Homo sapiens: one gene and its partners. The protein of the gene in region 3 interacts with the protein of the main gene of each other region in a biochemical or structural test. Each region holds a gene or a part of one and is shown on either strand. Other genes may lie near its edges.

Region 1 (7,426 bases), on a different chromosome or scaffold from region 3:
GTAATTTTCTCATATGCCACAGAGATTATTTGCAAACAAAAGTTATTCTGTTGCTTACTTAAAATAAAACATATCTGGAAATGTGGCACACAATTTTTAAAAATCCCTTCAGCAACACATCTAAGTATTTATAAAATTAGGGTAGTTTGTTTTAAAATCTACTCAATCCTGACAAAAATCAGGTGGTTAAACTATTGACTGATAAACTGTAAAGGTGGTCATCAAAAACTTCATTGAACAGCTCCAGTCCAGCTACTTAATGACTAATGGTGAAGAAATGTATGTGAATGGGATATAAACTAAGTTTCGACACACAGCAGAAGAAAAAAATTTAGAATGAGTAATAAAGGGCCCAAATTTAAAGTCCACAATAAACTTTAAACAAAGATGTTTTCTCTTCTCTTCTCATGTTAGCAAATCACTGTGGAGAAATCCAACCTCCACAAAACTTGTTACTCCGTCATTAACAACAGTGCACTTAAATATAACTATAGATTTCACAAGGGTATTTATTTTAGCCGCAAACATTTCTTACAAGCAACAACAACAAAATGCTCAGAAGCTATACTCAGTAGTCTCAGTGACTGAAAAAGTCCGGCTTTTAACTGCCATCCAATCCAAACAACCCACTTCTTTAGAAAGCTATGCAAAATATTGACCCCTTACTGAATTATTTTACTATTCAACATTAAACTATCTAAAAGAGAAAAGTAATTAATCGCTAAGTTTAGTTAAGCAATTTAGCTGACATAGTAAATATTTACTCTTCACATCTCACAGGAAGTCTTGACAAGCATTTGCTGCTATTCTGCTGGGGGTAGGGGCGGGAGGTGGGGGTGGGAGGCAATTTTTGATAAACAAGTTACAGGGTCCCAGCGAACTGAACATAGCTGGTGTTCGCCACCCCGACCCCCAATTAGGCACCAGATATTTTCCAAGAACAGTAAACACCTTATATAATGAAAGTAAAAAAAAAAAAAGTAGCTTTCTAAACTATGTATCTCCACTAACAAAACAAACAAAAGCCCCTTTAAAAACTACCAAGAGCACGTTTTTTAAAGCTGTGTGTACGTTTTTTACTTATACGTAAGGCCAATCGCAAAAAAAAAACTAAGCAAAGTATATTTACCTTAGCTTTTTAGAGACTGAGTAATCAACTTCCATGATTTTCCCATGCAATTCCACTTTACCTTTAAAACAGAAATTAAAGCACTCAGAACCTTGCTTAGATCAAGCCCGCGGGGGTCTAGGGGGGGCACGCACGGAACTCCACGCTCGGGCTCCGCCTTCGGGCGCCCCCAAGGGGTCTCCTACCCGGATCGAGCTGGGCGAACTTGGTTCCCAGTAGAAAGAAAGGTGGGCGCCCCGTGTCTCGGGACAAGGCGAGGAGGGTGCGAGCCCGGGTCGGACCCCAGGTATAGCCGTGGGTGGCATTACCGGAAAAACAAATTTAATAAAGAGCGGCGCCAATTTGAAAGGATGAGCTCATTTGAAACTCAAGCTGCAGGGCTGGCGCGGCCCCGCTGCTCTCCCGGCCCCCACCTCTCCATTCCGCTAATCCGGGGCCCGAAGGCTCCACCGGGCTCCCCTCCCTGCCCTCTCCTCCCGGTGGCCCCGAGAAAACGAGCCGAAGCCCCCCGGAGTCCGCCGCAGCGACAGCCCTGTCCCTGCCCGCTCCTGGGTGTCACCTTGGCCTCGCCGCCGCCCCGCCCCCACTCCACACGCCGGTGGGGAAGGGGCTCCCGCCGGGCCGGGGTTCGGGGGGCGCCGGCCGGGGCCCGGGGGCCCGCGCGGCTGGGAGCGGAGCGTGTGCTGGGGAGAGTTGGGGAGTGCGCGCGCGCGAGTGTGTGTGTGTGTCGCTCTCCGTCTCCTGTCTGGGCTCCAGCGCGCTCGCGGGCCCCCCGGTCGCCTCTTTCCCGGTTCTCAACCCTGGCCCCCACCGAGTTGAGACAGGGCACCTCGTAAAAAGGTGCTTCTGGCCGAGCGGGAGGCGGGGGGACGGGCGGCGGAAAGCCCCCAGCCCCGAGTTCTTCTCAATAAAATCGGACAAAAAATTCAGAGAAAAATAGGAGCGCTTGAGAGAGCAAGCGAGAGGGGACTGAGGTTCGGGAAAGGACCGAGGGGATGTGCCGTCGTGCGAGGGCTGGGGCTGGGGGAGCCCCGAGATCTCGAAGGGGGTCACCAGGGTGGCGCCGAGGGGGTGCCAAAAGTGGGGGGCCGTGGGGCGAGGTGGGGAGGGGGCTCGAAAGGAGAGTGCGGCTCAGGAGACGCCAGAGGGCGAGAGGTTCTGGGCACGAGGCACTGGAAGAGAGAAGGTCCGGCCGGGGGAGGAGGAAGAGACGCTGGATTTGGGGAAGGGGGGACCCTGACAAAGGGGGTGACAGGAAGGTCAGGGGAGAAGTGAGACAGGGGACGCTCAAAGGGTGGGGGGCGGGGAAGCTCAGAGCAGCCCGGGGCGCCAGGCGAACGAGGGGTGCCCCTAAGGAGCCGGCGAGCCTCGGGAGCCTTCGGAGCGGCACGGGGGGCGCCCCAAGGCTGCGGCCCCGAGGGCGAGGGCAGAGTCCAGAGCTGTGGGGGGAGGGGAGCGGGCCGTCCCAGGAGCGGGCCGGCGGCGAGAGTTGAGGGTCTGGTGCGTGGAAGTGAGCGTGCGGGCGCGGGAGCCGCCGCCGGGCGCCGCCCGCCGGACTCGGCCTCCCTCCCGGCGCCGTCCCGGCCTGAGCGGGGCGAGGCGGGGGGAGGGGGCCGCGCTGAGTGCTCACCCGAGAGGGTCTCGATGGCGCGGATGGCCCAGTTCTGGTCGGGGTAGTCCACGAAGGCGTAGCCGGACTTCAGCAGGACCTGTCCCGCCAGGGGCAGCTTCCTGTCCCCAAAGAGCTGCCGGAGGTCGTCGGCGGTGACGGCGGGGCTCAGGTTCCCGATGTAAAGCTTGTTCATCATCCGTCTCTTCCCCGAGAGCCCGCGGCTCCCCCGGCCCGGTACCCGGCGCTCCTCGCCTCCTCCGCTGCCCTCGTCTCTCCTCCTCCTCCGCCCCCCCTCCCCGCCCTCCGCCCGCCCGCCACCCACCCCCACCCTCAGCCTGGCTCCCCCCACCGCGGCCGGCCCGGCCCGCCCGGGGGCAGAGGCGGAGGCGGGGACTCGGCGCGGCTGCCTCCTCGGGGCAGAGTCCCGGGCCGGGCGGCGGCGCGCGGACAAAGCGCTCTCTCTGCCTCCCTCTCTCTCCCTCTCAAGGCGGTGGCGGGAGGAGGAGCAGCGGCGGGCGGCGGCAGCGCACCCCGCGTGTGTCTGTGTGAGAGTTTGTACGGGCGTGTGCGCAGCCGAGAGGGAGCGAGCGAGCGCCCCCTCCCCGCCCCGCGCCGCTGCGCCCCTCGCCTCGCGCCCACCGCGCTCGGCAGTGGCTGCTCGGGCTCCGGCCCCGCGCCAGGCGGGCGGAAGCGGGTCGCGGCCCCGGGCTGGGGCTCCGGGCGCCGGAACCCCGGGCGGGCGCGGCGCCGAGGCCGGGCGAGCGGCGGGGCGGGGAAGGCGCGCCCCGGGCGCGGGTGGGAGCGCGCGAGGGGGCGACGGGGAGCCGCGGGCGTGGGAGGGAGAGGGGCTGCGAGTGAGCGCGGAGAGGGGTGTGCGCAAGGTGGACCGGATGTGAGTGCGCTGCTGCCAGGGCAAGCGGGAAGGTGTGTCCCGGAGGTGAGAGGCGAGGGCAGGCTGGGAGACAACAACTTTCGCAGCGACTTGGCCGGGGCTGGCGCCCTGCGCGTTCCCGGGCCGTGCGCTCGCTCTGAGACCCGCTCCCCGCCACGCTCTCTGAGGTGACCGAGCGGCGCGTGTGGTCGAAGGATCGCGCGCGGGAGTCGGGACGCCTAGGACCGGGGTTGGCCGGGCCCTCGCGGACCGTGCTCGCGGGGAAGTGGTTCCCGGTCCCGGGCCTCAGTTTCCCGACCGGGGAGGGAAGGCGGAAGGCCAGCGCGGAGTCACGTCCTCTCCGCCCAGACCCCGCGTGTCCGGAACCCCGCGGCAGGCGGCAGCCTGACGTTGGCAGCTGCTCTCTATTCTGGGAAGTGCCGAGGGCTTCCCGGGCGGCGGCGGCGAAAGCCAGGTGGCGGGTGGGGAAACGAACGCCGAGGGGCCAGGGACTGCGGCGAGGCCGGAGCGCTGGGGTCAGCGGCCGGGGGACGGATGGTCGCCGCCCGGCTGCGCGGCCGGTTCAGCTCCAAAGCCAGGGTGGTGGGAGGCGAGGGTGGCTGGAAGCGGAGGAGCGCAGGCTGTGTAGGAGTTCCCCGAGCACTGGGAAGGGCCCGGAGAGGAAAGAGGTCCTTCCAAGCGGAGGAAACAACGTGACCGACGGAAGAGGCAGGGTTGGGATGAGAGCAGGCTGGAGCCGAGGGGCTCGGGCAGGAGCCAGACAGGCTAGAGCGGGCTGCAAGTTCCGGGGCCCGGCTGGAAGCCTGATGGTTAGAGCCTGGTCCCAGCCAGGAAATGAAATTCTACAGGAGGGAGAAGAATGGCGGGATTCAGAGGTGAGGAGGCAGAAGAAGATTCCAAGCTCTGGACCTCTGGGGGCCACTGGGAGAGTTGAAGGTTTGATCGCGGATATGTTGGGTTTTGTGAAGGCGTTGGGGCGCGGGTGCGGGGAGTGTCCTTGGGTGGAGAAGTCACGAATGTAGGAATGGAACAAGTTCGGGTCTCCTGACTGGGTCGTGAAGTAGTATTGTCTTTCCCAAGCTTTCCTGTTGATGAGCGGCGTGGAGAGAATGGGGCTTGCTGGATTTTGTATTTTCCGCAAGTACTCCCAGGTGATTCTGGTCTGGTAAACACTGTTGGAGTGGAAGGCCTATCTGCCCCGGACTCAGACCTTCTCTCTGCCCCCATCTTTGTGCCCTGAGATGTTCCAGCATTCTCGAGCCTAAGTTTCTTCATCTATAAGGAGATAAAATAACCAGTCCTCGCAGGGCTGTTGTGAGGGCTACAAGAAGGATAACTGCCTAGCGTGTTGAGACATGGGTGGTCAGACACTTAATGCCTGTTTCTCTTCTTTCCCCCAGGAATTCATGAACTTTTAAAATACTTTATTCTACAGAAGGAGATCTTCTTAACTAATTAGGTATCCAGAGGAGAAAGTAATGAATCCATTTTCACCTAGATATTTGCAGTTATTTGAATTCTGGCTTTTGTCTCAAGTATTCACATATTTTTTTCTCTCTCTAGAAAAAGAATCGGATTTTACTGCTCCAGGAGTTGAGAATGAACTTGGTTACTAATCCCCAAAGTAATAGATAAACTAGGTGTGGATGCTTCTTTACTAAATTGTATCAGAGAATCACAAATGAACATGACTTGTGCATGCATAAACCTCAGCAGACTGAACTAACCATCTTTAGATTATTTACACATGTGCTCCTAATTGATATGGTCACCTTTATATTATAGGACAGCATATTTGCTTATTATTCACAGGTACATGTAAAGGAGAAACGAGAGTGGCAGGAATAGTTGGCCTCATTCCTCTCCAACAGGTCAGAAAAACTTGTTGTTGTTGTTGTTGTTGTGTAGCATTTTAGATACATCAATTATTTGGTCTTACTGTGAGACGAAAAACACATTAGACAATGTACAGATTCTTGGCAGAGGTGGTGTATCAGTCCATTTTCATACTGCTCTGAAGAAATGCCCAAGACTGGGTAATTTATAAAGAAAAAGAGGCTTAATGGACTCACAGTTCCACACGGCCCAGGAGGCCTCCTCATAGCGGAAGGTGAAGGAGGAGCAAAGGCACATCTTACATGGGGGCAGGCAAGAGCACGTGTGCAGGGGAACTGCCCTTTATAAAACCATCAGATTTCGTGATACTTATTCACTATTGCAAGAACAGCATGGGAAAAACCCACCCCCATGATTCAGTTACCTCCCACCGGGTCCCGCCCATGACATGTGGGAATTATGGGAGTTACGTTTCAAAATGAGATTTGCGTGAGGACACAGCCGAACCCTATCAGGTGGCTTCTGGTGAACTCTTCTTACCCTGCTTCACCAAGTCACTTTGAAATTTTTTTTTTCAGAGAAATAATTGCTCTTTGCTGCAGTTGTCAGCTGTCCTGCTGGAATTTTGGAAACAGCAGGGCTGCAGAAGGAGGGCTTGAACTGTAAGTGTGATGGAGGGCATGCTTCCACTACACCCCTGGTTTGCAGCATCTACAGTGCCTTATCTTAGAATGCAGAGTTATTTTTCACATGATAGAGAAGGGGTTGGGGACCTTTGAAGACAATAGGGGACAGCCTCCAAGTGCAAAGTCAGAAATTCAGAGGCCTTGCTCCTGCCAGGCAAAACTTATTTTCTACCTGTTTTCTCTCGAGTTCCCCTACTTATCCCTCCCCCAGAGAGCTGAAACAGAGACCATCTTGATTGATCTAGACTTGGTTTACACCTGATAAGCCAAGATTTTATGAATGTTTAACAGAGGTCAGAAATTTGGAGAAAATCTTATAGTAGGCATATTACCTTTTAAAGCATGAATTAACTAATGTTTTCCTCAAGAGTTTCAAAGGCAGTACAGATCCTCATTGTTTCCCAGCGATTCTTTTGGGCAAGACAGTGATAAGGTGGCTGGGACAAGCTTTCTTAATCCTTCTTTTCAGGTAAGAAAACTGAAGCTCAGGAAAGTATAATTTTTTCTTAATCACATGGAGGGCCTGAAACACACCTGGAAAAAACATTTTAGTCTAACAACAAAGAGTTCATAAGTGTTAAGTCTTTTTCTTTTCTTTTTTTTTTTTTTTTTTTAAAAAAAGTCTTACTGTCACCCAGGCTGGAGTGTGGTGGGGTGATCATGGCTCACTGCAATCTCAAACTTCCAGACTCAAGCAGTCCTCCCACCTCAGTCTCCCGAGTAGCTGGGACTACAGATGCATGCCACCATGCCCAGCTAAAATTTTTTTTAAGAGATGGGATCTCACTGTGTTGCCCAGGCTGGTCTCAAACTCTTGAGCTCAAGCGATCCTTTTGAACCTACAAAGCTATAGCGGAATGTTTTTTTGCTCAACTGATAATGTAGTCAGTATAACCAGTGTCTCTAGATAATGTGAGAAGTTGAAAGAGAAAGTGAAGCCTATTTGCTGGAAGGCTGAGGCAAAGCCAACATTTGGAGGTAATTCTTAGAAGGTCCTGCACCTGCCTGTGCATCAGGAATGATTTGGTAGTAGGGTAATGTCCCTTAGACCAGTAGTCCCCAACCATTTTGGCACCAGGGACCGGTTTCATGGAAGACTATTTTTCCACAGACAGGTTGGGGGGTGGTTTCAGGATGAAACTTCTTCACCTCAAATCATCAGGCATTAGTTAGATTCTCATAGGGAGCATGCAACCTATCCTCACATGCGCAGTTCAAAATAAGGTTCAAGTTCCGATGAGAATCTGATGCCACCGCTGATCTGACAGGAG
Region 2 (7,032 bases), on a different chromosome or scaffold from region 3:
GCAAGGGTCACAGGGCCAGGCTCAACCCTCCACCCCAGCCACACTCCTGTCTCCCACCATGAAACCTCAGCTGAAGGGAGGCTAGGAGACACCATCAGGGCCAAGGGTGCAGGGACCGTTCACTCCCCTCTCATATTCCCTAGGTCATGCCCCAAAGGTCTCCAGCTGACCCACGTGGAAGTATGAAGTCAGCAGCTGCTGGTGAGTTCTGTCAATATCAATCCCCAAGGAAACACTGAATCCTCTAAATTAAACATCTCAGGCCTGGCAGGACTGGGGAGGCCCAGCAGGGGAGGGGAAGGGCAGGTACCTCGTGCAAGCCTGGCCCCATGGTTTCCCACAGACACGCTCGTGGGAACTCAGAGGCCCTGGAGGGCGAGAGGGAAGGATGGGAGAAGAGTAGCAAGGGAGGCTTGTGGATTCAGGATCAGAGGCAGAAAGAAAGAGGATGTGTTGAGGACAGCTAGCGTGGGAGATGGGGCTCCAGGGCAAATGACCTCCCAGGCACAGGCTCCCAAGTCCCACATGGCCCAGCAGAGAATGCCCTCCCCCACCCAGAGCAGCCATCAACACAAGGTTCTTTGTCCCAGCGTCCCAGCCTCCTGATCCCCTCGACCTGAGAGGCTGGGAGCACCCAGGGAGGAAGGAATGTCCCAGCTGAGCACTTCTCCAGCTTGTCTGCCTTCACTGGCTACTGCAATCCTCAGGCAGGCTGACCCGGCCCTCCCTCCCCATCTCCTGGCATCACAGCAAGGCCAGGGCATGACAGTGTCCCTGGCTCAGGGGCAAGGCACCCAAACACTGAGATGCCAAGATCCAGCTACCCACACTGAGGTAAGGGAGGAGAAGGATGAGGGAGGGGCGGCAGGGCAGGGAAGATGGAGGGTTCACAGGGCACCTTGAAATCCGACAGCGAAGCCATCAGCTCGTCCAGCTCCCTGGTGGCAGAGGAGGCCGAGATGCGTGTCTGCTGTTGGGTGGAGGTGACGCGCTGCGGGCTGCTCATCTCGCCCTGGTTCACAGTGATGGCAGGGCTGCAGGGTGGGCACAGCATCAGTGGGGAGCCCACAGTCAGCCCCACACTTCCCGGGGATCAGATCGACCTCTCACCTCGGACACTGGGGTCTCACCATCCCCAACCCCAGGGAGGTCCACCAGCTCCCTGTCTCTCCTGGGGACCCATCACTGGGTCAGAAGAAAGGGCAGTTCAATGGCACCAGGAAGTGCCAGGAAGACTCCTCTAGCCCCCAGCCCAAGTGAAAGCTGGCCTGCGAAACAAGCCCAAGCGCCCTGTGTTTCCTCCACAACACTGGACATGGAGGTGAGGCTACTGCAGTAACACGACGGCACTGGTAAGAGCTCGCGTGTTGGGCACTCACCATGTGTGCCACGCACTACACACCAGAAACCATTCCAAGCGCTTTACATGGATTACTGGTTCTCACCCTTACTGAGGTAGGTGGTCTTATCCCAGTGATCCCATAAGTTCTTGTCCCATTTTACAGATGGGAAAACTAAGGCTTGAGAGCTGACAGTAACTGTCAGAGCCAAGATGTGAACCCCACTGTGTGGCCCCAAAGCCTGTGCTAAGAGCTGCTAAGCTCCAGGCGCCCTCAGCCTGCACAACGTCTGTCCTTTCTGACTGGCAGTGACTGGCTGAAGGCAGGGATGGTGTCCATGTGACTCACCACTATCCCCCCAGTGCCTGGCAAATGGCAGACACGGGAGGGAGTGGGTGATACCAGGGCTAAGGGGACAGACACTGGACCCGGGGCAGGCTGGGCCAGCCCTTCCCCACCTGGGGAGGGCCCAGTGGGTACTCACACGGGGCTGGGCACGGAGCTCTCCAGTTCATCCAAGAGACTCTCCACACTGGGCCGCACGTCCTCCAGGCCCCGGCCCCCATTCCGCTTAGGCTTCTCTTTCGTCAGGGGCCCAGCTTTGCCTCCCAAGGGGCTGTTAGTCTCTGGGACACCATAGAGGGGGCTCAGGGCCCCAGGAAGCGGGGGGCTTGAGTTGGCCTCATCTTGCAGAGAGGAGAGAAAAAGGCTGCTCAGCCCTTGAGCCCTCCTGGGATCTAGAGGTCAGCAGATGGGCCCTGGGCCCTGGTAGACCCTGCCCCAGGGACCCGGTCCTACCTGCAGGGAAGCCTGGCGGGTTATGCTGTACAGCGTTCAGTTCCAGCAGCAGGCGGTCGAGTTCAGAAAGGTTGCTGCCCAGGGACGTGCTCATTACGGTGGGTGAAGGCTCAGCTGATTTCTGCTTGTTGGGGAAGCTTTGAGAGGCAAAGGAAAGAAGATAGTGAGAGATGCTTTCTGGCCTTGTACTGGCTTGGCAGTTCCCAGATTCCCAAGGAGAACAAGGCAGAGGAGATGCGAAGTCTTCCCCCGCAAGAGGACAGAGGGTAGGGAAGGGATGTGGTAAGAAGAGGGGAGGAGGCCGGGCACAGTGGCTCACGCCTGTAATCCCAGCACTTTGGGAGGCTGAGGCGGGCAGATCATGAGGTCAGGAGATTGAGACCATCCTGGCTAACACGGTGAAACCCCGTCTCTACTAAAAATTAGCCAGGCGTGGTGGTGGGTGCCTGTAGTCCCAGCTACTTGGGAGGCTGAGGCAGGAGAATGGCGTGAACCCAGGAGGCGGAGCTTGCAGTGAGCCGAGATCGCGCGACTGCACTCCAGCCTGGGCGACAGAGTGACAGAGCGAGACCCCGTCTCAAAAAAAAAGAAAAAAAGAAGAGGGGAGGAATGAAGTCTTGCTTCAGTTCCTCAGCTACACGGAGATGCTGTGATAGCCCAGAATGTCCACTGCATGGAGATGGCACTGATGAGGTAGACGGGCCCACCGACAGGCCTTCTGCAGCTTAAACCAGAATAACCCCACAAGGCCCAGTTGCTATGCCTGCTCCCGGGCCTCCGCTGCCTCCCACCCTGGCCAGGTCCCTGAGATTTCTAAGCAGGAGGGAAGGTGCCCTGGGCAGACTGGGGCAGTACCTGTAGACGTGCTCCTCCTCACCCACTCGGGAGCACGGAGAGCCAACACTGTCCTGAGGGTTGGAGACACTGGAAGTTTTGGCACTGGAGCCGTACACAGGTGATGAGGACTGAGGCTGCGAGAAGGAGAATGCTCAGAGGCTACCCCGAGGGGAGAAAAAGGAACAGGGGCCAGGAGCAGCTCCAGTCACCCCCAGGAGGCTCCTGCCCACAGCCAGTCTCACCAGGGAATTTCCACAGTTGGGCCAGGAAACCTGTGATTAACCACTTGGTCACTGTTCCACTCACGTGGTGAGTGGGAAGAGCAGTGTCTGGTTGGGAAGGGTCGACTGCCCCAATTCCATTCCATCCCCTGGCTCCCTAAGCCCCTGCCAGCTAAGTTCCCTCTGTCCCCCAGCCTCCTTGGCCTTCCCAGCCACTGTCCCCGCCTCACCTGCTGGTGGATGAATCGGGAGCTGCTGGGCTGCCACTGGTCTAAGGGGTCAAGGATTGTGCCATTGAGGGCCTCGCTGGACGGGGGTGGGGGGACGGGGGGTGGCACGGCAATCTCCTGGTATGTGTGGTTTCCAGTTGGGTATGAGTAGGGGGTCTCCTCCGACAAGAACACAGGCCGTTTGGAGATGTGGGAGGTGGTAGACTCCAAGTCCGCCAGCAGGGCGTCTGCAAAGAGAAGGCACGGGTAGCAGGTGAGAACCGGGATCCTGGGGACTCTCCCGTGGCAGGGCCCTCCCTGCCTGCACCTCAAGAGTTAATGCCTTCTAGCACCTGCCCCACCCATGGGAGAAATGACCAGCCTTGGGACAGGAAGCCACCAGCCCCGACCAGCCTAACCAAGAGCCGGCTCCCAAAGCTAACTTCTTCTGGCCACCCAGGACTGAAAGTGCTCTAGAGGCGGGCTCTGGGGCTGCCCTGTGGGATCTCCTACCTCTGGGAGTCAGGCACCTGGCACTGCGTTCCCTCCTGACAGGGCCGCGCAGCCGCGAGTGAAGTGCCTGTCTGGAACTCTGAATCTGCAGGGCAACGCGGAGAGAATGGGCGGGAGGGGCCCCACGTCACAGGGAGGGGCCCTGGCTATGCCAGGCCCTCACTTGATTTCTAAGAGCTTAGGCTTTCCCAGCCCCCGACTGGAAGGGGCACTCAGGATGGTCCCTGCCCTCCTAACCAGGTGGAAGCAGAAGCCCAGGCTCCAGGTTCCTCCTGAGGCTCTAGGCTTATGGGGTAAGGTGTGCGGGGAGGTGGGGGCTGGAGTGAGGCTGGTGCAGCGGTCCCCACCCCCTCAGTGAGCAGGGGGCAAGACTGCTCCATTGGCTGTTTCTGCGGAAGTCTGGCAAGCAGCCCGGCCCCAGAGGCTCCAGGCCCCCACTGTTCTGCTTTTAACAGCGGCAAGGGAGCCAAATCAGCCCTCTAGTGTAAGCTTCCATTACCCTGGCACCTGGCAGCCAACAGGGGGGCACTAGGTCTCCCCAGTCTCCAGAAAAGAAGGGTATAGAAGGGCAGGAGTAGGACCTGCTGACCCCCACTTCCTCCATCCCCTCCTGGGACCCTCAACAGCCCCACGGCTCAGACAGCCTGGCCCTGGATGCCACACCCTCATTCCTGCCCCGTTCACAACTTGCTTGCTCTCAGCTCCCCGGTAACCTGCTGGGTCCAGGGAGCTGACAGCTTGATCCCTAGCCCTCAGGATAATAAACATCTAAAAAGCAATGGCTGCGTTTATTGCCACTTATCAGTAGCAGGCAGACTGCTAGGCATTCTAGCAGCATGTACGAGGTCTCCGTTAATCCCCCTAATACCCCCTGTAGCTGGAAATGATTCTCCCCGAAGCGATGAGGAAAGCCGGGCTTGGAGAGGCAGAGGTCAGAGGTGTTTGCTCCAAATAACAAAGCCAGTGAGTGGCACAATTGTCTGACTCCTCAGAAGCCCCAAACCCCAAAAACCTGGCCTGTAAGAGGCCACTATGACTACCAGATGATGCCATACTTAAAGGGTTCAACTTCCTGAATGTTGGAGGCCCAAGCTGTGAGGCCTGCCAGTGTGATCCTTCCTTGTGGCCTTGCTCCCAGTCCCCCAACCTGTGTTCAGAGGAGGGAATAGAGAAGCAAGGCCCTCACCCAGGGCCTCGGTCTATGGGGCCACACCTTGTCCCAGCTGCCTGTCCTGATCTCCTACCCTCAAGGCTGGCCACACCTACCCCATGCTCCTGCCCAGATGGACAGAGGGGATGTCTGTTCCAAGGCCCAGGACCCCGGGTCTGGTCGCCTGACCTCCAAGGAAGTTCAGGTCCTACAGCCCGCCCCGCCCTCCGGGTCCCATGGAGGAGGCCTGGCTTCCTGTCTCTAGCAAACCGGAACTAGAGGGAGTTGGTAGGTATCTAGGTAACGGCAGAAAAGGAACCAGTGTCCAGGCCAATCCCCACGGCCTCTCCAGGGCCACACCTGCTGTCTTGGCTTCACGCAGTGTCCTCATTTCCTCTGGGCCCAATCAGCAATGGGTGGATCCCTCTTTCTCCACCATGGGCAGGGCCAGCTAAGAAACCCCATAGGACTCCCCAGAGCAGGCAACGAATGAGTGCAACCCCAGTAGGGGGCAGGAGCAGCTGCCATCCTTGAAGGCCCACTGGGGCCAGGAGCTTCACCTTTGTTACCTGCCATCCTCACAACGCCACCAGCACAGATGGTATAACTGCGGTTCAGAGGCAGAGTCACATCCCACACTGCCAAGGCTGGATGAAGTGACAATGCTGGACTCTGATCTCAGGTCTCTTGGACTCCAAACACCCAACAGAAGACAAATGGTCAGGCTTCCTTGTCAAACATTTTGAATCAGGGACTCCACCAAACACCCGCTCCACCACAATGTGATTCTAAGCCTGGGCTTTTGGTTTATGGATTGGATTCAGGTTTACAATGTCAACAGGCTCTTGGGAGCACAGATCCCTAGGCTGGTGAAGTATTGGTGAGAGGATGCAGTCCTGGGGCACAGAGACACAAGATCACTCATTCTGAGGTCGAGCCAGACCTGAGTTCAAGTGCCAGCTCCCCTCTCTACCATCCATGCCACAGGGCAAATCGCTTAGCTTCTCAGGGCCTGTTGTCTCAGTAAGCTCTTGAATAACTCTGACCTCAAAGTACTGGTGTGAGGTTTATAAGGGCTAGCAGGTACACTGGAAGCTGCAGACATCAGTTGCAAATATCAGGCTCTCCAGACCCAAGTCACTCTGCAGGAGGAAGCTCCATAGCACATTGGAAGCTACAAACATCAGATCTGATTTGCTCTGTAAAATCCAGAATAAGGTCTTCCTCCAAGGAGAGCAGTGTAGGTAGGATGCAAAGTACTAACTTCTTCTAAGTCTCCTAAGTCTTTTCTGGGTAGAATATGAGCAAACCATGAAAAGGGCAACCTTGAAAAGAAAAGAAAAGTAATAAAGTAACATTCAAATTGTAGCATGTCCCAGCCTGGGCAAAACAGTGAGAGCCTGTCTCTACAAAAAATTTAAAAATTAGCTGGGTGTGGTGGCGCATGCCTATAGTCCCAGCTATTCAGGAGGCTGAGGTGGGAGGATCACTTGAGAACAGGAGTTGGAGATCGGCTTGGGCAACACAGTGAAACCCCATCTCTACAAAAAATTTAAAAATTAGCTGGGTGTGGTGATATGCGCCTGTAGTCCCAATTACTCAGGAGGCTGAGGCAGGAGGATTGCTTGAGCCCAGGAGGTCAAGACTACAGTGAGCTACAATTGCACCACTGCACTCTAGCCGGGGTGACAGAGCAAGACCCTGTCTTAAAAACAAACGAACAAATCATAGAGTGCAGATGTCAGGGAGAAGGCACATCATTATTCAGTTTTCTCCAAAGTTTTGTCTATTTGAGGGACAGAGAAAAACCCCAGCAAGTCCATCCACCAGCCACAGGGTCTCTGGTATGGCTTCCTCCTCTCTCTCCACCCTTCATTCTCACCTAGTGATTTGGACAGGCAAGGACTAGGCAAGAGGGGTAGGGGTTGGTGCCTCCAAACCCCCCACAAACTCCTCAAGAAAGA
Region 3 (8,011 bases):
GCTGGAGGCATCATGCTACCTGACTTCAAACTATACTACAAGGCTGTAGTATATGATATCAAATATGTCTGGTATCAAAACAGACATATAGACAAATGGAACAGAAGAAGGGCCTCAGAAATAACACCACACATCTACAACCATCTGATCTTTGACAAACCTGACAAAAACAAGCAATGGGGAAAGGATTCCCTATTTAATAAATGGTGTTGGGAAAACTGGCTAGCCATATGCAGAAAACTGAAACTGGACCCCTTCCTTACACCTGAAATAAAAATTAACTCAAGATGGATTAAAGACTTAAACGTAAGACCTAAAACCATAAAAACCCTAGAAGAAAACCTAGGCAATACCATTCAGGACATAGGCATGGGCAAAGACTTCATGACTAGAACACCAAAAGCAATGGCAACAAAAGCCTAAATTGACAAATGGTATCTAATTAAATGAAAGAGCTTCTGCACAGCAAAAGAAACTATCATCAGAGTGAACAGGCAACCTACAGAATGGGAGAAACATTTTGCAATCTATCCATCTGACAAAGGGCTAATATCCAAAATCTACAAAGAACTTAAACAAATTTACAAGAAAAAAACAAACAGCCCCATCAAAAAGTAGGTGAAGGATATGAACAGACACTTCTCAAAAGAAGACATTTATGTGGCCAACAAACCTATGAAAAGAAGCTCATCATCACTGGTCATTAGAGAAATGCAAATCAAAACCACAATGAGATACCATCTCACACCAGTTAGAATGGTGATCATTAAAAAGTCAGGAAATAACAGATGCTGGAGATGATGTGGAGAAATAAGAATGCTTTTACAATGTTGGTGGGAGTGTAAATTAGTTCAACCGTTGTGGAAGACAGTGTGGCAACTCCTCAAGAATCTAGAATGAGAAATACCATTTGACCTGGCAATCCCATTACTGGGTATATACCCAGAGGATTATAAATTATCCTACTGTAAAGACACATGCACACATATGTTTATTGCAGCACTGTTCACAATAGCAAAGACTTGGAACCAACCCAAATGTCCATCAATGATAGACTGGATAAAGAAAATATGGCACATATATGCCATGGAATACTATGCAGGCATAAAAAAGATGTGTTCATGTCCTTTGCAGGGATATGGATGAAGCTGGAAACCATCATTCTCAGCAAACTAACACAGGAACAGAAAACCAAACACCACATGTTCTTACTCATAAGTGGGAGGTGAACAATGAGAACACATGGACACAGGGAGGGGAACATCACACATCGGGGCCTGTCAGGGCTTGGGGGACTAGGGGAGGGATAGCATTAGGAGAAATACCTAATGTAGATGATGGATTGATGGGTGCAGCAAACCACCATGGCACGTATATACCTATGTAACAAACCTGCACGTTCTGCATATGTATCCCAGAACATGTATAATAAAAAAAAAAAGAAAAGGACTTAGTGCCCCTGAATTGTATACTTAAAAACAGAGAGAGAGGTGGGAGGAAGGGAGAAGAGTATTCTAGGAGGAAGAGACTATGTGCAAAAAGTATTGGAAGCAGGAATGAATAAGACAACTCAGGAAAAAACAGCAAGTGCAGCTCAGTCTGGCCAGACACGTGGTGCCTTGAGGAGGGAGGCTGAGCGATGAGGCCGGACAGGGAGGAAGGATCCCGACTGCAAAGGGCCTTGAATGTCTTGCTAAAGACCTTGGACTTTCTTTGGGCACTAGGTATACATGGGAGGATTTTGTGCAGATGAGTGACTTTGTGTTTTAGGAGGATCTGTCTCCCAGCAGATTGGAAGGTGACTGGAAAGGGTGAGAATGGAGACAGGAAATGCCATGGAGACTGCAAAGTCTGCGCAAGAGATAGGGAGAACCTGGCTGTGAGGATAAGGCAGAATTAAAGATTTGGGAGATGTTTCTAAGGTAACCACTTCCAGACCTGGTGACTGGATGACAAGAGAGAGATCTGAGAGGCTGACAGGAAAGTGCCCCAAGGCCAGATGGGGAATTCTCACAATTCTGGACTACTGCCACCCTCCCTTTCTCAAGAAGAAGAGCAGTGCTAGCAGGTTCCCCTTCCCAGCTCCTCCCTCCCCTCTGCGCCCTGGCAGTCAGGGCCCTATAAACCCCATTTCCAGTCTGGATCCTGGGAGAACAAGTTTACCCTGCCCATAATCTGCAGAAGATCCCACTCGGCATTGGAGCTTTCTTTCCATAGTGAGTGAAGCCAAGGCTACAGTTCTTTGCACTCCACCTCTGTGGGGTCCTCTGAGAGCTGGAGCTGAAGTTCCCCCCAGACCAGGAACTACCACACATCCAAGTGGAGCCCTATCTGCCTTCAGTCTGGGAATGCCTCGAAAGTCCCTGTAACCTTAGGGTTCCCTGATGTGGAAGCCTTTCATCCAGATCCCCGCCCGATTTCCTCCCCTCATAACAGGACATCATCCTGCCCCAAACAGGCCCTAGGTAAAGCTACACTTCTTACCCGGTAGGGCTGAATGGCCTCGTCCAGGAACCCCACGGTGTGCGCCTGGTGCGTGGGACCCTCCCTGCAGAACACACAGAGGAACTCGGCATCGTTCTCGCAGAAGAAGTAGATCTTCTCGCCGTGCTCCTCGCAGTAAGTTTCTCCCAGCGGGCCCAGGGGCACAGGGGCCATGGGAGTCTCTGCCTGCTCCTCCTCTTGGCAGAGCGGGCAGAGCAGGATCTTGCCCGAGGATTGGGCCCCCATCTGGGAGAGCGCGGGGAGGCAGAGCCGGCAGAAGGTGTGTCCACAGGGAATGGTCACCGCATCCTCCAGCGGCCCCGCACAGAGGGTACAGGCAGGCAGCTCATGGACCACCTTCAGGGACGGGGTTGCGGGCATCACGGTGCCTTCCCCAGCCCGTCCACTCCGGTCTCCTCAGCCCACGCGAGTTCCCTTTCCCTGAAATCGAGTCACACTTACATGAATCGCAGAGGGAAACGGCTGCAAGGCTAAGAGACAGAGAGAGAGAAAGAGAGAGAGAGGCAAGAATGCCAGCACAGGGAAGCCACCTGGCTCCGCCTCTTGTGTTCCCTAGAACCCTGGCCACCACCTATCAGCGGAGTGGGTCCAAATTCCAGGGCGTCTCGAATTACCCAGAATTTCCCAGTGGCGGCCAAGTAAGCCAGTTCTTTACTCCTGGCTCCTTCTGGTCCCTAGGGTGGAGAACAGAGCACACCATGAGGTCACAGGGGGATGGGTTTCCTGGAATCTGTAGACCACAGTGGCTGGGGAGAACTGGGGAGCAGAAGCTTCCTGTCAGATTGAGCAGGTGGGAGCCATAAACTTCTGGCTCTGAGGCGTGCCCACAGCATCAAAGTCCAGGCTGGAGTGAGAGGTGTGGACTTCGGGAGATTCTGCCGGAAGTGTGTGGGCGGGACGCTGTTTCGACACTGCAGGTAGGGTGTAAGGATTGCTCATCGGGTCCCCTCTTCTGCTCTCCTTTCCTCCCTCACCACATCTGCCCATGGTGGCCCCTCCTACGGTCCCAAATCCCCCACCACCTGGCACAACAGTCCCCTTTGGGGTTCGGGTAACACTGGACTATTTTATTTATTTATTTATTTATTTATTTATTTATTTATTTATTTATTTTTACTGTAGCGGGGAGAAGGCAAGAAACCATAATGCAAATGATTTATGTTGATACACATTAGAAAACGATTAGTCAGATAATCAGTTTCAACCACATTTATCTAGGGTTTAGTATTTTTATATTACTACATTCAATTTTAATAACCCTCTAGGCAAACATTATTACCTTCATTTTACAGAGAAAGAAATGTAAACTGACTTTCCAAATGTAAAGTGACTTTCCAAAGGTCACAAAGCTAGAAAGTATCACGTTAAGGACGATCCCAGTCTCCTGGCTTAAAGCCCTACGCTCCTCCCACACCTCATGCCAAGACCAAGATCTGCAGCCACGGTCCTTCACCCATGCACACATCTGTGGATAAAACCAGGCCTTCCCCCATTCTCCCACTGGGTGATCAGCCTAGCCCCTTGTGGTTGCTCCCTTTTTACTCTAATCACTTTATTACCTCCCCTTCCCATCCAATCTCTGCTCTTCCTGCCACGAGTGCAGCCCAGGAACTAGTTTGTCCAATACAGGAGCCACCAGCCACATGTGTCTACTGAGCACTGAAATGTGGCCGGTCTGAATGGCGGCATGCTGTATATGTAAAATACATACCGGATTTCTTTTTTTTCTTTTTCTTTTTCTCTTTTTTCTTTTCTTTTTTTTTTTTTTTGAAATGGAGTCTCGCTCTGTCTCCCGGGATGGAGTGCAGTAGCGCGATCTTGGCTCACTGCAAGCTCCTCCTCCCGGGTTCACACCATTCTCCTGCCTCAGCCTCCCGAGTAGCTGGGACTACAGGCGCCGGCCAGCACGCCAGGCTAATTTTTTTGTATTTTTAGTAGAGACGGGGTTTCACCGTGTTAACCAGGATGGTCTAGATTTCCTGACCTCGTGATCCGCCCGCCTAGGCCTCCCAAAGTGCTGGGATTACAGGCGTGAGCCACCGCGCCCGGCCAACACACCGGATTTCAAAGGCTTTTCACAAATTTAAAAATGTAAAATATCTTATTAATGACTTTTTATATGGATCACATATTGAAATGATAATATTTTGGAAATATAGGACTAAATAAAATAACATCATTAAAATTACTTTCACCTGTTTAGACTATTTTTATATGGCCACTAGGAAATTTTAAATTGCATATGTGGCTCACTTTGCGTTTATGTTGAATAGCATTGCTCGGAAGACAGATCTGACAGCAAATTATTTATGGTCACTCACCTTCTTACTTGTGTGCCTAGGGCAAGCTGAATAACCTGGCTGGGCCTCAGCTTTCTCATTTATGAAATGGAGATCCTAATAGCACTGATGTTGCAGAGCAGACACAGAAATAAGATCATACTTTTAAATTGCTTGTATCAATGTAAGTTGTACCGTCATTGTAAATAAATTCTGGCCAAATTGCTTGTATCAATGTAAGTTGTACCGTCATTGTAAATAAATTCTGGCCGTTAGTAGTTTTCTTTCTCCTCCCCATCATAGGGAATATTCCAGCCTCTTTTGAGGCCTGCAGCAGGCCAGTTGAGGCATCACCATTGAAGTTGCTGGTGCAGTGTACACCCTGGCACAAGGACCTTATCTGAGCCCCCACACTCTCCTGCTTGCTGATGGGCAAGCCCTGGGCTGGCTGATACCTCCAATCTCTTTGGAGACAGCTGGCCATATGGCAGAAAGGCTGGAATGGCATCTCCACTCTGTGACCCAGTCTCCCACTTGCCCCCAAAAGAATATTTCTTCTGACAGTGGACAGCTGACATATCACCACTTTCCTTCTACTGTGAGTGTCTCTGGATGGGCAGAAAGGAATGGCCAGCCCCTGGTTATGGTCATCTAAGGTCACCTCTGAAATGCTGTGAGCCCCTCTTCCTTCCTCTCCTCTGCTATTTCCCATCTCTGCTGTTGGCAGGAGAATAGAACCCTGGCTGCCAGAGATGCAAGTGTGTGACGATATGGGTGCTGGTGCATATTTAGTATGTGCCTGTGTCCAGCCATGTGCATGTGTGGGTGTGTGAGTGTGTGACCCAGCCCTTCCCCCGTGGCCAAGCAGAGAGAGTGGCCTTGAGGAAGCCATAGCAGCAGGACCAGCATGGCCTCTGCTGCCTCTGTGACCAGCCTGGCAGATGAAGTCAACTGCCCCATCTGTCAGGGTACCCTGAGGGAGCCGGTCACTATCGACTGCGGCCACAACTTCTGCCGGGCCTGCCTTACCCGCTACTGTGAGATACCAGGCCCAGACCTGGAGGAGTCCCCTACTTGCCCACTCTGCAAAGAACCCTTCCGTCCTGGGAGCTTCCGGCCCAACTGGCAGCTGGCTAACGTGGTGGAGAACATTGAGCGCCTCCAGCTGGTGTCCACACTGGGTTTGGGAGAGGAGGATGTCTGCCAAGAGCACGGAGAGAAGATCTACTTCTTCTGTGAGGATGATGAGATGCAGTTGTGCGTGGTGTGCCGGGAGGCTGGGGAGCACGCTACCCACACCATGCGCTTCCTGGAGGATGCAGCGGCTCCCTATAGGGTAGGAAAGGGGAACTGGGGGATCCCAGGGTGGACTGGACTGGACTAAGAGAAACAGCAGAGTTGTGGATTATTTAGGCCACCCGGAGGCCAAATTCTTTCTCCTTACTTACATGATCACCCAGGCAATAGACCCAGGCATGGAAAATTGTGTTTATGTTTTATGTTTTTTTGAGTGTGTTCTGTGTTCACTTGTGGCCAACAGATAACGGGAGTTCAACAAGTACTTGTTGAATGAATGAGTGACCAAACATGAGTGTGTGTGTCTGTGCCATGGATCAGGTGTGTCTGAAGTTTGCATTTGAGGGAATGATTGTACAAACAGTGTGTATATGTGTTAATGTTTGCATGTTTAGAAGTGTGTCTGGTGTGTTTGGATGGGAGTCTGAGTATGTATATATTTGAGTGTGTAAGTGTAACTGAGAGCTCCTGTTTGTGAATAAATTCGTGTTTACATATATTCAGGCTGGGTAAATGTATGTGGCATGCCATTTTATCTGTCATTAAATGAATGTGTGCTGGTTTTAGTTGTTTATGCATTGTGCTTATGAATTATGTTTTAGTACAAGTCTGTGTGTGGATGTCTTAATTAGTTAATTAGCAGTTGATAGTGAGAATTCTAATATATCTTTGAACACACATATTTATCGTGTGTGTACCTGTTCCTAACTCTATTCTGGAGCAAATAATTTTGAAAACAATTTATCAATTATTTTTACATTACCCAAGTTTCTTCTCCCCTCTGGAGTCATACACAGATAATTGATTTCAGTAACAAGGGAGGGTTGTTATTTACACATGTTCCTTTGGGATGAGTCGGAAACTCAGAATGATTTCAGTGCGGGGCATATCAAACTCAGTACAGACCCCAGATACCACTTACCCGAAGCAAAACACAATAGAATGTTAAACCTGAAGAAAGACTCAAGTGGGAAAACCAAGTCACAGCCTCTAATGGCACAGGATAAAGGGGGAAAGTCCTGATCCAAAGTCTTAGAGACAAATCAAGAGGAAGAAGACCCAAAGGGAGTAAGCTGTCAGGGTGGTGAAGGCTCGGGGATTGTCAGCTAAGGAAGGGACTCCTCTCCTGGGGCCATTTCATTCCTGGAGGCAGAGGGTCAGATGACCAGACAAACCTGAACAAATCATTTTCCATCTTGAGTATTTTATGTTCCTTCTCCCCAGGAACAAATCCATAAGTGTCTTAAATGTCTAAGAAAAGAGAGAGAGGAGATTCAAGAAATCCAGTCAAGAGAAAATAAAAGGATGCAAGTCCTCCTGGTAAGTCATCACCCCTTCCCCAGGTTCCTCCCCTTCCTCAGGGTCCAGTGTCTTCCTGAAACTGAGGCAACATAGATTATAGGGCTTTGAAGTTATTATGAGTTTAAATCCTGACTCTGACACTAACTCTATGACCTCAAGCAACTCTCCAACTTCAGTTTACTTATCTGTAAAATGGAGAGTAAAAATCATCATGACCTCATTGAATTACTGTAAGCATTAAATGAGATTGTGACTGTAAAGTAGCTCAGGGCTGTGCACATAATGTGCTTTTCATACAAGACAGGAGGTAGGGTGTCCCCACCACCTCCTCCTACACCTCCTGTAAGCCCTACCCCTTTTAGAAGCTGCAGCAGATGGTGCTGAGACAACACTGTGAGTCTTGCTTCTCGAAATGGGATGACAAGTGAAAAGGAAACCATGACACAGTTCCAGATCTACCTGGGGACAGGGGAGGAAGAGGAGCAGAGGGAGAAGGAGGAAGCAAACTTTCTCTTGGGCTTGCCTCCTGCCCCCTCAGACTCAGGTGTCCACCAAGAGACAACAGGTGATTTCTGAGTTCGCACACCTGAGGAAGTTTCTAGAGGAACAGCAGAGCATCCTCTTAGCAC
Region 4 (7,907 bases), about 27 Mb from region 3:
AGATATTTCTCCTTGGTCTATATTGAACTCATGGGGAAAGCAGAGGTCTCAAAAAAATGTTTCAATCTGATTCATTTATTCTCTCCAGCACATTTTGTCATTTCTTATTCACTTACAATAAAAAGCCTCCTAGACCTTTTATATACAATCTCTCTATTTCATTGTCTATTGCATTGTTAGAAACGCCCTTCCTACCTGAATAGTGTTTTTTAGAACAGTAGCTGGGCAAAGAAGGATGTTTTCCAAACCTGCCTGATAAGAATCACTTGCTCTGATTATCAAAAATAATGGTTCCCAGCCCTCAACCAGAATTCACTTAAATAGATCTGTGCATTCCAAAAACACTTTTGGTGCCTATTTGTTTCCGTTACTAGGAAAGCAACTGAGGAAACATGAACAAATAACACGAGGTTTCCCAACCTTAAGGAGCCTTGTCTAGAGAAAGGTGATCAACATGTTCAAAACCACCACATGTGCTGGAATGAAGGCACGGGCAAAATGCTTGATGCTCCCACCGGGCAAGGAGCCAACGGATGATGGGCAGGAACTGACTGGGCCAAGGCAGGGGAGGTAATTGCTGCTGCCGCTAACACATATTAAATGCTGACTCTAGTGACAGATACTAGGCGGAGTGCTTTACAGACGTGATCACACTTAATTTTCACAATTGCTATTATCTCACTAATTCAGATGTGGCAAGCCCTTGGTTAAATTAATATTTTTCCCAAGAACGAGCAGCTGGAATGGGGCTCAGAACTCTCGTTCTGCACAGAGGAGGGTACAAGCCCCACCGTCGTGCCATCAGCAAGTCTTTCTTGTCCCTTCTCTGGACTTCACTATCAACAGCTCTGCTGTCTACCGCGTGAGGAACTCAAGATCTGAAGGAAAAAGGAGAAACTTCTTTCTGCAGAACAGTGTGCCTCTCAGAGCCCTTTTCTGAATTTCAAGCCCAAATCCATCATGCTAAAGGATTCTTCTTCATTTCTGCAAGCTGGCTGTATAACTCCTAAGCCACTAACTAAAAGTGAAGTCGACTGCTGGCAGAAATGCAGTTTCAAAGGCCTCCTAATTATTTACCAAACACAATTGTATAGTCGACACACACAATTCTCACTGAAGCAAAGTGGAATGATGCCTATTCATAAACTTTCCTTAATTGTACTCACAAGCGGCTCCATGACATTAGAAAAGATAAGATAGAATGAATACTTTTTAGGAGACTAAATTAGAACATGATTACCTCATTATGTCCAGATCTTGAATCCTGGTCCCCAGAATTTTTTTCCAGAAAACACTTCACTTTCTCCACCTCTTCCCTGCACTGAAAAAAGGCCATTTTCTCCAGCTGGTTGCTGTTATAACACGTGTTGAATTCTTCCAGCCTCTTCACTTTTAACATCTTAGTAGTGAGTCCGATTAAGCTACTTTCTGGAGTGTGGTTTTCGTCTCCCTCTGTCTCCGATTTATAAATCAGGACACAATTATGACTCTTCAGTGCTTCTTTCTCTTGACTGCAAAGAAAGGAAACACAAAAAGTTCTCATCACGTATTCATGCATTTGACTTCTTGAGAAAATGACCAGTGAGAATTTGGAAGTCCCTTCTGTTTAAACTGGAGAGAGGATCCAAAATCAGGAAAAGAAATACTAACATTCATATTGAGTTTCCAACATTGGAACTTTAAAAGGAAAAAAAATTTTTTCACTTTAAAACTACAAAAGCAAACAGTAAGAAGCAATGTCAAGATTCACTGGTGATGAAATATGCTCCTTATTGCACAAAACAAGCCGTAGATCAAGTGGCCAGCTTGGATGTAAATTATAAAGTATCTTTGGGTTTAATTGGAACCGCAGGTTTTGCAGCCCCGTGGGAAGGGCTTATCACAGAAGGGGTCTCTCTGCTTCCCCTGGCCTCCCTCTGCAGAGGGATCGCTCCCGAATGAGTCCTTTTCCAGAACTCTTCTCTACCTATGCCTTAAAATGTGTGGTGTTTATTTGTGAAAAGAAATTTATTTCCTTACAGTCTTCTCACGTGGACAGCACTCCCAGATACCTTTCCTTGCATCTGCATTAACAGCTATGTACCGAGAAGTTCAGAGTCTTTTCACTCTCCTTAAAATACTTTCCTCGCAAATGAAGTAATGCAGCATACATAATTCGCTTTGATACTAGAGACATATACGCATGTCTATATGTACACATCACTTGATTGCATAGAGAGGCAGGGAGAGGGAGAGACATTTGAATTTGTGCTAGTTCCGCATGGCTGACAACTGAGGCCCCCTGGTGGAGATTTTCCGAAAAGCGCCTCTTCGAGCATTTTCTCCGCTTAAAAACCGTATTGTGATTCTCATCAGAAAACTTAATATTTTGTTTTGTCAGTTCCTATAGTAAAATGATACTCTTGAGTTCCAAAGTGTTTAAAATTCACTGCTCTAACAAATTATACTTATCCACATAAAGAGCTTACATTCAAACAAATAAAAATGCAAATATTAATACTATCAACCAGAGCTCTACAGATATATTACAGATCATTCTTAGCATTCTTTCAAATTGCCCTGAAAAAATTATTAAAATAAGGAAACAAATGCATGGCTATTTCTAAGGCAAACTACGACTAAAATACTATGGTTAATTGCAGATGAAACTCAAGTTGGATCAGGAAGCCACACAAAATTAATGTATTAAAACAAAAGCTTAGGATTAAGATACAATAATTTTGCAAAGAAATATTAAACATTAAGCTCTACCTGAAGTTTGGTACAATTTGTTATTGAAGGTAACTTAGAAAAAAGGGGAGGAGATTTGAGAGGTTATAACAATAAACAAAGATAATTACCATTGATAGGATCACATCGAAGAGCTTGAGCCACTCCAAGTCTAGAGCATACATTCCAGAAGATAAAGAGAAATTTTGCAGAATTCAAACTGACTATGAAAGTCTCTGGTAAAAGTTTTGACTCTCAGTCGTATAAATCTTCTGAAAAGACAAGTGTCCACTACGAGAGGAAGTATCTTCTCTCTCAAATGCCACTTTCAGCCCCTGTTTAAATTAATATGGCTCTTGATCTCACGTTGCTCAGCTGTTGCCTTCTTAGTCAGATGGGGAAGAATATTAATTTTAGACACCAGGCTTTTCAAGGCCAATGGCTCCATTTCAGAGGTCAGGTAAGGAGAGGATGAACCGGGAACACTGGATGAAATATCACCTTCACCTTTCCCTCGTATCATTGTGTCAATACTCTCGGATTTACAAAGCTAGATTTGTCCTCGGCAATCATCTGCCTGGACCTTCTGCCCCTTTCAGACTCAGGATTATTTAAGTGCTCATTAAATTTCCCCCAGTAGGGAAAATGCCAGGTGTGGCAACCCCACAGCCACCTCTGTTTGCCCATCTTACGCTTTGAGCATATCCAACTGCAATATAGAAGATCTTCTGAAAGCAGTTAGCAAGTTTGTTTTATTTTTCTCAGTTCTTAAAGATGTTTGCAAAGTCTCCAACCATTTCTAGCTCTAGGGAAAGGTCAAAGGCACAGGCATCCAGGAAACAGGAATAAATTTTTCATAAATTCTCCTTAAGCAACACTAGGACTTCATCCGTAGTTTTCTGCACAGACCAAGAAAGGGGAATTTCAACCCACCTGCCCGACTCTCACAGTAGTGCATCCCTAGATTCACTGAAGTGGCATAAAACTTTGATTGCCCAGAGGCTGGACTTTGCAGTCTTGAAAACCCTGCAATTTTTCAGGGCCTGGCCAATTGTCACCTCTTATTTGGAGCCTGTGTTAGCCCCTCTATGCCCCATTCTAACACCAGCCTCTGCTGCTCTTCTGCTTCTTTTAAAAAAAAAACCTTATTTTTAATTCAGATCGATGCATTCCATGTGAAATAAAAATACATATTTTTCCATTTTATGTAGTATTAATGAATTACAGCAAAATCTTTTTTAAAACACAAAACGCTTGTTATTTTTCAGATTGGAGAGCTTTGTTCTTCAGCAAAAGTAATGAAGTGGAACTATAAATTTGTGGAGATAAATTATCTGACAAAAGTATTATACAAAGACTAAGCTGGTTTGAGGTTACCAATTTTGTTAGTATAATTAAATTGTGTAGAAGTACTGATAAGGCAACAAATGCCCTGCCAGAGGCAAGATGTGTGTGGGCTGCTGCTGATCCAACCACATCCTCCACCCGGACCACCACCACGCAAAAGCAGACTTCCTATCTCGTTGGCTCCAGCAAACCAACCACAGGCTTGAGTGAGCCAGAGGCCAGGAGAATCTGCTCCTTAGCTTATTTTTTTGTAATAAACTTTTCCTTTTAGAGTAGTTTTACATCTACAGAAAAGGTGCAAAGGTAGTTCAGAGTTCCCCTTGCCCTGCACCCCGAATCCTCTGTTTTTAACATCTTACGTTGGTATGGTATACTTGTCACAATTAATGAACCATGGTGAACGTTATTATTAACTAAACTCAATACTTTATTGTTGCTGGGTTTTTTTTTTCCCCAAATGCCCCTTTTCTGTTCCAGAATCCCATGCAGGATTCCACAGTACATTTAGAATCAGTAGGATTTATGATAGATTGGGTATGGGGTATGAAAGAAAGATGGTAGACACCTTTGCATATTTTCTTCTGAGCACTTGAAAGACAGAGTGAACATTAACTGAGATGGAGACGGCTGTGGGAAGGGCAACTCTGGAGGGAAAGGTCAGGCATGAAGTCTTTGGCAAGTCCATTAAACGTTCAAGTTGAATAGGCTGTGGAGATAGAAACTGGAGTTCCGGGGAGGGGTGTAGGCTGGAGATAAGAATTTGGAAGGCATCCACATATAGACATTTCCATGCACAATATACATTCAATACATATTTGATTAATGACTAGATAGAATGATCTTTAATTGTGTCTACTTGCCCTAAAAAGCAAGTCAATTAAAATAATCCATGCTAAAAGTGACTGATTGTCTGGTTCTGCTGCATCACACTGTTCCCAGCTTCCGATGGCATACAGGACAAGCACACTGCTGGCACAACCCTTGACCACAAAAAAACAGGTTATACATGCATACTCATTCTGGTCTATCAGCCTAGCCTCAGGATCCTAAGTCCATACCCATAAAATGTTCTGCATGCTTAAAGATGCTCTTATACCCGGAAAAATTCATTAGTGAGGAATATGAGCAGGCCCAGGAACACTTTTCCAGTATTTCCATATTTTGGAGTTATACTTCTCTAAAAAATACCAACATCAGGAAAACAGCACCCTACAGAGCCATGGAAAAGAATCCCTTGATTTTTTTCAAGGGACATTTCCATTAGCTGAGTAAGAGACTGTGTTGTCAAAGGAGCCACATGAAGAAACATCGTCGACAGCTCTTGTCTACGGGTTGGCATTGAAACCCGGCTGGATTACACTAAGAGTTTTTGTTTCTACACAGCGTTCTGAATGTTTCCAGAACAAGACCTCTTGAATGTTTACACACAAAAGCGGAGCAACAGTACAAATACCCAAATGCAAATAAAAAGCTACTGCATCCCTGTTACCCACATTACAATAGAACTTCCTTACTTTCAAAAATCACCACTGAATACGACCCATAAAAACGAAGATTGATAAATTGCACTTCTTCAAAATTCAAAACGTTTGCCTTTGAAAAAACACTATTAGGAAAATGAAAAGACACTATTATGAAAATGAAAAGACCAGCTACAGATGTATAGAAAATACTGTGAAGTCACATATTTGACAAAGGACTGCATCTAGCATATACAACTTAATAATATATGACAAAACATTCCAGTTTTTTAAATGGACAAAAGATTAAAACAGACCTCACCAAAGAAGATATAAAAATGGTTAATAAGCACATGAAAAAAAATGCTCAAAATCAGTCATCAGGGAGATGCAAATTAAAACCACAAGGAAACATCATTTCACACCCACTAGGAGAGCTGTAATAATAATGAAAAAAATAAAAGATAGGTTGGGTGTGGTGGCTCACACCTGTAATCCTAGCACTTTGGGAGGCCAAGACAGGAGGATCACTTCAGTCCAGGAGTTTGAGACCAGCCTGGGCAACATAGCAAGACCCCATCTCTACCAAAAAAAAAAAAAAAAAGACAGAGAAAAGCAAGTGTTGACAAGGATGTGGAAAAACTGGAACCCTCACCAAATATGTTGATGGGAATATAAAATGATACAGGTGTCTTATAAAAGAGGTTGGCAATTTCTTAAAAAGTTATTTCCCATATGACCTAGAAATTCTTCTCCTAGGTATCTACCCAAGAGAAATGAAAACATATGAACACAGAAACCATGGCACATGAATGTTCACAGCAGCATTATTCACAATAGCCAAAAACTGAAAACAACCAAAATGTCCATCGGATGATTTGGAGACTGGGAAAAGATAATGTGGTATACACATACAAATGGAATACTACGTAATTAAAAGGAATGAAATACTGGTATCTACTACAATATGGATGAGCGAAAACACTGTGCTAATTGAAAAAAAAAAGCCAGAAACATAGAGCACAGATTGTATGATTCCATTTGTATAAAATGCTCAGAAAAGACAAATCTATAGACGTAGAAAGCAGACTGGTGGTTGCCGGGGGCTGGGTGCAGGAATGGGGGTTAATTGTAAACAGAATCTTACCCGATGATGTGTGGTAGTGATGACTGTACAACTCATTCAGTTTCTTAAAACAATGCAGAATTGTGCACTTGAGATGGGTGAATTTTATAATATGTAAATTATACTTCAATAGAGTCATTAAGAAAAAGAAAACCCAATAATATGATTAACAAAAAGTAGCTTGTTAAAAGGAGAGGAAAAAACTGAACACTTTGTGGTCATCTGTCCCCAGTGACCAAGGCTGGGATCCAGGGAAACATAAATTATATTCCACACTTGCCAGGTCACCTAGGGCCAAAGAAAAGGAATGGTGAGCAGGAGACAGTTAAGAGTCTCACGCTTTTCTTCTCCTGGCATGAATATCATGCAATATAAGATTTTGTAATTAATAGAAAAATTAATAGTAATTTTAAAAGTAATTTCTATCTTTTATTTTCTGCTTGGAGATAGGATACTTTGAGCAAGAAAGATAATGATGTTATGGAATATCCAGATTTCTTTACAGGAAATTTTGATATTAGACCACTAAAACTTCTAAGTGACAGCAATTAGCTAAGTATTACGAAATACAAAAATGAAAATAAAACAGGTTTTAAAAATTAGATAAAAATATGGATTGGATCATTTAAAAATTAATATTTTTCAGAAATATTACATAAAGTTTCAGTTTATTACCTCTACAGTGGCTACACAAATTGTTCCTTTAATTATATCCCTTAAACTTTCTAAGGGATATTTGCAAGCATAGTACAATGAATACCTATACATCCTTCACCCATATTCACCAAATGTTAGCATTTTCCATGTTTGCCCTCTCTCTCTCTTTTGCGAGTAAGATGCATATCTCATGAAACTTTACCCCTATATGAATTGGTGTATGTTTCTTGAGAAAAAAGACACTTTCTCACATAACAGAATCTACTCAAAAATTACATAGCGCATTTAATCACCATGTCTTCTTAGTCTCCTTTTATCTATTTAGGAAATGGTCATTCCGTTTATTTTATTTTATTTTACTTTTTGAGACAAGGTCTCACTCTGTTGCTTGTGCTGGAGTGCAGTGGCGTGAACACAGCTCACTGCAGCCTTGACCTTGGCTCAAGTGATCCTCCTGCCTCAGCCCTCCAAGTAGCTGGGACTATTGGCAGGCACCACCACACCAGGCTAAGTTTTGTATTTTTTGTGGAGATGAGGCTTCCTAGTCTCTCTCTCTTTTTTGTAATCCTTCATGACATTGATATTTTTGAAGTCTTTGGACAAATTGT

The links.
Region 1: the proteins of TRIM15 (region 3) and IGF2BP2 form a complex in vitro, tested with the Homo sapiens proteins (one study listed by BioGRID).
Region 2: the proteins of TRIM15 (region 3) and PXN form a complex in vitro, tested with the Homo sapiens proteins (one study listed by BioGRID).
Region 4: the proteins of TRIM15 (region 3) and MYLK4 form a complex in vitro, tested with the Homo sapiens proteins (one study listed by BioGRID).

Annotation. Positions count from the first base shown.
Region 1 is NC_000003.12:185,822,024-185,829,449, forward strand, and holds the start of IGF2BP2 (insulin-like growth factor 2 mRNA-binding protein 2), read right to left. Parts: upstream 3,020-7,426; 5' UTR 2,938-3,019; coding exon 2,760-2,937; intron 1,391-2,759; exon of another isoform or gene 1,315-1,390; intron 1,191-1,314; coding exon 1,130-1,190; intron 1-1,129.
Region 2 is NC_000012.12:120,220,725-120,227,756, forward strand, and holds part of PXN (paxillin), read right to left. Parts: intron 6,394-7,032; exon of another isoform or gene 5,645-6,393; coding exon of another isoform or gene 5,629-5,644; exon of another isoform or gene 5,460-5,628; coding exon of another isoform or gene 5,429-5,459; intron 4,698-5,428; exon of another isoform or gene 3,654-4,697; coding exon 3,427-3,653; exon of another isoform or gene 3,110-3,426; coding exon 2,994-3,109; exon of another isoform or gene 2,276-2,993; coding exon 2,139-2,275; exon of another isoform or gene 2,027-2,138; coding exon 1,825-2,026; exon of another isoform or gene 1,035-1,824; coding exon 899-1,034; exon of another isoform or gene 591-898; intron 202-590; exon of another isoform or gene 1-201. UniProt on the Homo sapiens protein: Cytoskeletal protein involved in actin-membrane attachment at sites of cell adhesion to the extracellular matrix (focal adhesion). Recruits other proteins such as TRIM15 to focal adhesion.
Region 3 is NC_000006.12:30,158,539-30,166,549, reverse strand, and holds the start of TRIM15 (E3 ubiquitin-protein ligase TRIM15), read right to left. Parts: upstream 3,005-8,011; 5' UTR 2,949-3,004; coding exon of another isoform or gene 2,947-2,948; 5' UTR 2,866-2,946; coding exon 2,485-2,865; intron 1-2,484. Other genes in the region: TRIM10 (tripartite motif-containing protein 10), read left to right, coding at 5,269-5,382, 5,752-6,120, 7,305-7,400, 7,921-8,011.
Region 4 is NC_000006.12:2,747,896-2,755,802, forward strand, and holds the start of MYLK4 (myosin light chain kinase family member 4), read right to left. Parts: upstream 3,028-7,907; 5' UTR 2,841-3,027; intron 1,512-2,840; coding exon of another isoform or gene 1,400-1,511; coding exon 1,241-1,399; intron 1-1,240.